Linked DNA regions of Homo sapiens: region 1 is linked to region 2. The links come from fine-mapping of genetic effects on gene expression. A gene starts in region 2. The other region holds a variant in brackets. All regions are shown on one strand. Distances are from middle to middle.

Region 1 (4,378 bases), 29 kb after region 2:
GCATGTAAGGTAACACATTCACAGGTCCTGCATTATGGACATCTTTGTGGGGGTCACACCTAGCTAGGATGGCGACCTCTTCCCTAACTAGAGGAAGTAGTTCTGAACACGTTACCATGATCTCATGCTATCCTTGTGGGCAGCATGGATCCCCACAGTACAGATGACAAGCCTAGGTGACTCCAAAGCCTGTGGCCTTGTTGCAATCTCTAGGTTGCCTCCCAGATTGGAAATAAACCCCTCCCTCCTGGAGCTCCCCCATGGACCCTCTGCTTTGGCTTGCTTCCCTTGGGTTTGCATCTTGGTCTGGCCTACAAGCTCCCTGAGGCAGAGGAGCCCTGGCATGGGGAGTGGAGGAGGAGGCACTCAGGCACCATCAGAGTAGAAGGAAACAGAGGATTTTGTGGGCTGTGGGACAAGTGGGCTCTGGAGGATCTATGATTCCCCTGCCATATTTGCAACATTGTGTGTCTGTCCATTTTTCTGGCAGAGGGAGCAGAACTTCCACCAGATTTTCAGCGGAAGCTCCACCTCCAAGGATCAAGATAACCCCGTTCTGGGCTGCCCCTGATCCTCCCTTTCCTGGGCTCCCTTCTCTGAGCCTGCCTGTCACCAGGGCTCACTCAGCACCAGGGGATGAGGCGGGGGACGGTGGAGAGGGAGTGAGATGAGAGGCTGCTCCATGCTGCCCCCACTCCGCACCTGTTGTGCATTCCAGAAGGACCCACTCAGATCTGTCTGGCCAGAAGGCAGGGGAACTTTCTGGGCCACCTTAAGCCAAGGCAGGTCACCAAGGCAGCTGAATATGTGCAGGGACATGGGTGGGGATGGCAGTGCAACCCTGCTGTCTCCTCTAGATTGCTCACATCTGTCTGTGAGGCAGGCGGCCCCTTGCTGAAATGCAGATTGCAGGGGTAGGGGGCAAGAGTCTGCTTTTCTTTCTTTTTTTCTTTCTTTCTTTCTTTCTTTCTTTCTTTCTTTCTTTCTTTCTTTCTCTTTCTTTCTTTTTTCTTTCTTTTCTCTTTCTTTCTTTCTTTCTTTTTCTCTCTCTTTCTTTCTTTCTTTTTCTTTTTTTTTTTTGAGTTGGAGTCTTGCTCTGTCACCCAGGCTGGAGTGCAGTGGCGCGATCTCAGCTCACTAACTTCACCTCCCAGGTGCAAGTGATTCTCCTGCCTCAGCCTCCCAAGTAGCTGGAATTATAGGCACTTGCCACCACGCCTGACTAATTTGTATTTTTGGTAGAGACGGGGGTTTCACCATGTTGGCCAGGCTAGTCTTGAACTCTTGACCTCAAGTGATCCACCCACCATGGCCTCCCATAGTGCTGGGATTACAGGCATGAGCCACCGCACCCAGCCAAGAGTCTGCTTTTCTAACAAGCATCCGGTGCTGCTGGTCCATGGCCACACTTTGAATACGAGGACCTAGAGGACCTGGGCCTACTTCTGTCCCTTTCTCCTCTGCATTCGTTCAATGATTTGTGTCTTTGGAGCTCCCACAATATGTCATTCTCCACTTTCCCCCCACCAGCTTCACCCCCTGGCACTGGCTGTGAGGGCCTGGCGGGGGGTGGGGGGAGTTGCTGCCCACTCTCCTTTCCCTGGCAGGGTCTGGTCCCTCGGGGGCCGGGAATGGCCTTGCTCAGGGCGCCGGGATGAAGTGAGCACTCCTCCGCTGGGCTTCCTCGTCACCTTCCATGCTTCTGCCAGCCCTGCGTCTCTGTGGTCTCCGCCCTCCCAGCTTTTCCTGCCCTTGGCCCTCAAAGACATGACTTCACTCGCCTATCAACCAGCAGTGACCCCGCCTGGAAGAAGGAGGGT[A/G]GAGCGGCCTTCGCAGCTGTGCCAATGCAGAACTGGAACACAGCTCTCTCCATTGCCAGGGAAGGCTGATCCAGACACTTTATTAGGATTTCAGAATTTGGGGTGGAGTTCGATGAATGACTTATTACACCTTGTAAAACAGGAAGTGTGTTTTGAGCAATCTGCCCCAATAGCTGGAGGCACTAGTATTTCGGGTGTGTCCCCTTCACCCAAGCCCTCATTCCTAGGCAGGTCTCAGAAAGGGTTCCACTAGCGCCCCCTACAGGCCACATGATCAGGGCTCGGCTTGTGGTGGGGTGGGGAGCGCAGAAACATGCAGACCACAAGCTGTTTGCACGCATAGCCTGCACTCCAGATATCCAGCAGCCCACCCAATACCCAGGAGAGGGCCGGGGGGCCAGGGGAGAGAGAAAAGGAATGGAGGGCTTCGGAAGGGCTCCTCTCTTCTCCCCCAGCAGCCCCAGGCACAGAGCATGTCCCCCACCAGCCCCTGCCCCCAGCCTCCCTGCCCAGACAGGCTCTCTCACAGGTCAGGGAGTTAAGTGGCCCCAGCACCAACATTGCCATTTAGCAGTCCTGCCACTTACATCACGAAGGCCTCAGATCTCAGAGGAGACAGGGAGGAGGGCTGAGAGGAGGAGCCAGAGATTGCCATGAGGTTCCTTCCCAGCTCTTGGCTGCAGGGAGTGGAGAGGCCTGCAGAGGTGAGCTGGGGGCCTGTACTGGGGCTCCAGAGGGAGCATAAGGTGTCTTCCTTTATGCATCGACACCCTGACTAGGCCTTATGTGGGTGCTGACCTGGTGGCTTTGTTGTGGTCCTCCCCCTGCCACAGGCCCCTCAGCTGCTCCTCTGTTCTCTGAGGACCTGAGGGATCATGACCTGGGAGGGGAGGGGGTCACAGGCAGGAGGTCTCCACTCTTCTGATGCAAGAAACAGCTGAGTTCGCCTGGCACCTGTGGAAAGCCTTCAGGCTGTCAAAAGCCAAAGCCTCACTGAGGTTTGTTCCTACTTTGGTGTTGGTGCAGGAGAAGGGGCTTGGATCCAAGCCCCCAGTGCTGACATTGACCTACCACCCCATCCCCCTTACCCTGTGCTTGGGTGGTCCAGGGGTCTTTGGCAGGGTGGGAGGGGCAGGAGTGGGGGACTCTGCTCTAAGTGGGCAAGTTGTGTGCCTTTTCACAGTGACAGGAGAACAAGGACAGTCGGCCCTGGGGCCTACTTTGCCCTACAAAATAGATCAGTCTTGCAGATGGTGCATAGCTCCTCCCAGCTGCCAGCCCCCTCACCTCTTTACCTGCTGGTGAGAGTACACCTTGTGGCCCAGCCACTGGTAAGACTCCTCTCCTGGCCGCTTGCATCTCTTCCTTGCCCCCGGCCCTGTCCTGGTGTCCCCCACTACCAGTCTCTCCTGTTCACTGACCCAGATTTCTCCACCCCCTCCGCTGCACCCAGCGGCTTCATCTTTCACTCCTTGGAATCCTAGTCCTGTAGTAAGAATAGTAGCAAACACTCAGACAGCATTTCTATGTGCCGGGCACTGTTTAAAGCACTCTGTGTATATTGATTCATTTAATGGTGGCAGTAACTCTAGGAGGGAGAGACAATTATTATCCCAATTTTGCAAATGAGAAATCTGTTACATTGGGAAACAGTAAGATTGAGTTAAGCCTAAGGGCTGAAGAAAGAAGGAGATAGAGACCAGCAAAGCAGGCCTTGGGAGCAGTCATCCTTATCCAAAGATGAAAAGACTTGTTTTTTGTCATTACAAAGTAATGTGTGCAGCAGACTTCCCTGACCCTTGCCCTACCTACTCCTGATCCCCAAGAGCTACAGACACAAAGGGATGAAAAACAGGCACCCAGGGCTGGGCACGGTGGCTCATGCCTATAATCCCAGCACTTGGGGAGGCTGAGATAGGCGGATCACTTGAGGTCAGGAGTTTGAGACCGGCTGGGCCAACATGGTGAAACCCCGTCTCTACTAAAAACACAAAAATTAGCTGGGTGTGGTGGCACATGCCTGCTGTCCCAGCTACTTGCGAGGCTGAGGCACGAGAACCACTTGAACTCGGGAGGCAGAGGTTGCAGTAATCAGAGATCTTACCACTGCACCACTCTAGCCTGGGCTACAGAGGGAGACCCTGTCTCAAAAAAAAAAAAAAAAAAAAAAATCAGGTACCCACTGGAGGGCCCCTCTGCTGGCCTGTTCCCATTCTCCAGTCCTAGAATACAGGGCAGGAGGGGAGAAGGCCAGGGACCAGAGCCAGGAGGGCTCCTGGGTTCCAGGCTCTATTCCTCAAGCCGCCCCCCTCACCACTCTGCTTCTTGTTCACCTCCAGTTTTCTTCATTTCTCTTGGGAGAGAGCGGGACCTGGCCCTGTGGGTGCTGGGAAAGGTGTTCTGGCCTGCCTGGGAGGGGGCAGCCCCAGAGAGCTGGGCTGAGGTGCCCTCATTCCAGACCTGTCGTGTCCTCATTCCAGGCCTGTCTTTTCTTGACATCCCTGCCGTGGTCCTTCCCCTCTGCCTTCCCTTCGCTCTGACTCCCAGACTCAAAACAA
Region 2 (4,317 bases):
TTAACATGTTTACAGACAGTCCTTTAAATTTTAGGCTATAGCTAGTTCTAAGTTTCATCTGTTGAGTAATTGATTGGTTTTGACTAGTTTCTCCTTCAGAGTCTTTATAAACACATATGGGTACCTTATCTGCTTATTTCCAAACAGAAACCTTTGGCTTTAGGGTAGTATTTTTTAAATGGTGAGTCCACAATCTATTGGGCCCCTCACCAAAAAAGGGACAGAATACAAAGTACCAGAGGACACTGAATATAATCAATGAATTAATTTTAGCTTTTTTGTTGTTGTTGAGACAGTCTCACTCTGTCATCCAGGCTAGAGTGCAGTGGCCCGATCTCGCTTCAGTGCAAACCTCGGCCTCCCGGGTTCAAGCTATTCTCATGCCTCAGCCTCCTGAGTAGCTGGGACTACAGGCGTGCACCAACATAGCTGGCAATTTTTTTTTTTTTTTGGAGACAGAGTCTCACTCTGTCACCAGGCTGGAGTGCAGTGTGCGATCTCGGCTCACTGCAATCTCCGCCCCCCGGGTTCAAGCGATTCTCCTGCCTCAGCCTCCCAAGTCGCTGGGACTACAGGCGCACACCACCATGCCCAGCTAATTTTTGTGTTTTTAGTAGAGACAAGGTTTCACCATGTTGGCCAGGATGGTCTCAGTCTCTTGACCTCGTGATCCGTCAGCCTCAGCCTCCCAAAGTGCTGGGATTACAGGTGTGAGCCACCGTGCCCAGCCTAATTTTGTATTTTTTAGTAGACATGGAGTTTCGCCATGTTGGCCAGGCTGGTCTGGAACTCCTGACCTCAGGTGATCTGACCGCCTCAGCCTCCCGAAGTGTTGAGATTACAGGCATAAGCCACTGCGCCCAACCTAAATTTTAAAAAACTTAAATAAAAAAAGAATCCTGATTCTGGGGAGTGGGTGTGTATGTGCATAGGAAGAGGCACGATGAAGGATAAAGTCCAAGATCTTACTGTTGCATAAATTCAGCTTCCTTTGTGAAATCGTTGCTGAAAGTCTGACCCCTAATACATCTTAGCACTCCTCAATCACGCAGTGTTTACCATTTGTTCCCTCAGACTTGTCAGACAAAAGTCCAGATGCGCCGGGCGCGGTGGCTCACGCCTGTAATCCCAGCATTTTGGGAGGCCGAGGCGGGCGGATCACAAGGTCAGAAGATCGAGACCATCCTGGCTAACACGGTGAAACCCCGTCTGTACTAAAAATACAAAAAATTAGCTGGGCGTGGTGGCGGGCGCCTGTAGTCCCAGCTACTCTGGAGGCTGCGCCAGGAGAATGGCGTGAACCCGGGAGGCGGAGCTTGCAGTGAGCCGAGATCGCGCCACTGCACTCCAGCCTGGGCGACAGAGCGAGACTCCGTCTCAAATAAAATAAAAAATAAATAACATAACATAAAATAAAATAAAATAAAATTTCCAGATTCTTCTCGACTTAAAGATGGGGCTACCTCAGGGTAAATCCATCTGTAAGGTTGAAAAATCTTAAGTCAACCATTGTAAGTCGAGGACCATCTGTATATGGCATGAGAATTATCAGCTGTTTATTTTCATCTACTTTGTCTCCTGAAATAAATTGCCTGAGGGCAAGGACTCTTACATTTCTTTGCCATTTTTGCTAGGTGTTCAATCACCGTTCACAATGATAACAGTAGGAAAAAGTGCGCCTTCTAGTAAGTGGACAAACAAGTTTGAGTACACTGCTCTGCCCCACTCCCTTGTTACGGGGTAACATAACAAGGTAAAGTACCTCCACAACGAGGCAAGACTAGGTCCTGTTCCTTAAGGAGCCCGCAGCCTTGTCTGTTCTGTTCGTTCCCTGGCAGATTACAGGCTGTGGAGATCCCTCTCCCCGCTCTCTAACGTGGAGTCGGCTGAGCACGACTCTCTCGCCCCAGCGCGGGAGGTCTGCGGTCTGCGGGTATGAGGCGCTCCAGGGGACCTGGCATCGTCGGCGTGCAAGAGAGGAGCGGACCTGAGACGCAAGGAGAAGCCCTGCCTCTGGAGTCCAGCTCCTTTCCTCTTCTGGTTTTCCTCGGAAGGGGCCAGGAGACACTGGAAGGTCCGGACGGCAGGGAAGGGGACGGGGTTCTTTCCAGTCCCACCCGTGTAGGGACACCTCTCCCCCTCATCCCCCGATGTACCCTCGCTGAATCTGGGATGGGAGAGACGAACCGAGTCTAGGCATCTGCGTAGCAGCGCCGGGGAGAGCGGGGAGCCCAGGGCGGAGCCCAGTCGACTCCCGGATTCCCCTGCCCCGCCCCCGGCACGAGGCCCCGCCCCGGCGGCCCCGCCCCTCCTCGGGACTCGACCGGGCTGCGCTCACTGCCCAGCCGGGGCCCCGGGAGCCTCCAGGCTCCCGCCCGCCCTGAGCTGCGGCCTCCGCATGGAGGGGCCACTCACTCCACCACCGCTGCAGGGAGGCGGAGCCGCCGCTGTTCCGGAGCCCGGAGCCCGGCAACACCCGGGACACGAGACGGCGGCGCAGCGGTACAGCGCCCGACTGCTGCAGGCCGGCTACGAGCCCGAGAGGTGACGCCCAGGGCAGAGCGCGCGGGGCGCATCCGGGGCGGGCGGCCGAGGAGGGCGCGGCGGCTCCGGGAACCCGGCGACGCTGCGGGGGAGGGGCAGGCCCCACAAACCCTTCCCCTATTACCGCCTCAGCCTCTAACTTCCCGAAACGCCACGCTCCCGGCTTTGGTTGGGGGATGCAGACGGGCACTGTGCGAAGGGTTAGGTGCTTCGTTGCACGGGGGAGCGGAGGAGAGGGAACAGGTCGTAAAAACCTTCCCTAAAATCTTAGCCCTAGATTGGACCTCGCTACACACCCGACGACACCCCGTTCAGGTGGCTCCAACTCCTGGGGTTCAAACAGTGCTTGCTGGAGTCCTGTCCGACTGACTTGGCTTACCCCTCCTTAGCTGTTTCCTCCTAGAACTATCTTCAGTGGTCTTACTGGCAGGTGTTGGTGTCCAGATGGATCGCCTTCGCAGGGCTAGGTGAGGACACTCTCCCCTCCTCACCATGCACTGAGATCTGAGAGGCTGCCAGTGCAGCTCACCTCAAGGTCTCTCCGAAGACGCAGGCCCCCATGCTGGGGTCTGTAGGGGAATGAGGGACACTGGAGGAAGAGTAGGGTAGTGAGCTGGGCCCCAGGGGGACTGGCTGAAAAGGAGACAGCAGCTAATCTCTGGATTGTATCGCAGCTTGAAATGCAATCCCACTGTCCTTCCGGTCCAGAGGATTTGGACTTCTTTCTCTGCCCATCTGCTGGTGTTCAGCAGCTTGGGGAGGTGACCTGGCAGCTGGGTTAGATGGGGGTGGTCTGGGGGAATTAGCCCGGCAGCTCTGCCCAGGGGTTGGCCGCTTATGTAAGAACTTTTAACGGCTTAAGGGGCTCCTCGGCAGTGGGGCTGCTGAGTTAGGCCCCCCTGTCCTGGCAGGCTGCCTCTCTAGAATTGACTCAGGCTTAGGCAACTCCCAGCCTTTCTCCTGTCCTAGAAATCCAGCTCCTGGGGTTCAGGCCGCAGGGCGATAGGGAGGGGCCACAGGGGCTGAATGAGCCGGTTGGGGCTTGACAGAGGCAGTGCTTGGTTAGAGTAGGGGTTGCAAACATAATGTTTCAGAGCTCAGGCCGGAGCCATGTGAGTGCATCCTTTCTCCAGATTGCACTTCTGCATCAAGGGGCCATCCCTACCCCCACCCCCAACCGACCCGCACCCCCCACTTGGGCTCAGGGAGCCTGTGTAAACCTGAGCCCCAGCCAGGTGGTGTAGTGAGATTCAAAACCTGCTGGCCAGACCTCCACCTGCCTTCGCCAACCTGGAGCTGTGGGAAGAGGACAGGATTCTGTGAGCAGTCCTGGGTTTGAATCCAGTGTTATTGCTCTCTGGCTTGAACTTGGACAGGCTATGCCCCCGACCCAGCTCAACAGTGCTAATGTTACTACCTTTTCTGCCCTTCCCCCATCTTCCCCTCAAGAGTGTTTTGAAATCTTGTTCCTTCAAATAGCCCCAGGCCTGATAGAGCCCTCGGGGTTCCCTGCCTGGACCTCAGTACCCAGCTGGGCACTGTTGCCCTGCTACCCTGAGGAAGGGGCTTGGACCTGCCTTCCTATCCCCACAGCTGCTAGGTGGGGGTCTCAGGGAACAACAGCCCTTCCTCGGCTTCGGAGGCCGACTGGTTGCCTCGGTGTCTCCTCCCCATGGAGGAAGCAGCTGGGGAAGATCAGGAAGAGGGTGTATGAGAGTGGGGGTTGAGGGTGGATTAGCGGAGTCTCTGGAAAAGCACAGCCTAACCCAGGGC

Alleles and levels. Alleles are on the strand shown, and positions count from the first base shown. SD is a standard deviation of normalised expression in the study named.
For the expression in unexposed skin of the gene that starts at base 2,318 in region 2, A is the low allele of the variant in region 1 and G is the other (small effect, 0.33 SD a copy in GTEx).

What was found. PIP is the estimated chance that this variant, and not a neighbour inherited with it, causes the effect. A credible set is the group of variants that fine-mapping cannot tell apart.
Region 1: its variant is the best candidate, but not a certain one, in a credible set for the expression of IMPDH1 in unexposed skin (GTEx, PIP 0.78).

The regions. Positions count from the first base shown.
Region 1 is chr7:128,379,018-128,383,395 of GRCh38, reverse strand. No RefSeq gene overlaps it. Among named protein-coding and RNA genes, the nearest start is that of PRRT4, 20 kb to the right of the region's middle. The variant A/G (reference allele first, on the strand shown) is at 1,821.
Region 2 is chr7:128,407,983-128,412,299 of GRCh38, reverse strand. It overlaps IMPDH1 (inosine monophosphate dehydrogenase 1), which reads left to right and starts at 2,318. Exons shown (of 17, transcript NM_000883.4): 1 at 2,318-2,544; 2 at 2,816-2,859; 3 at 2,948-3,011. The coding sequence starts at 2,399. RefSeq lists an enhancer at 1,662-1,901 and a silencer at 2,172-2,791.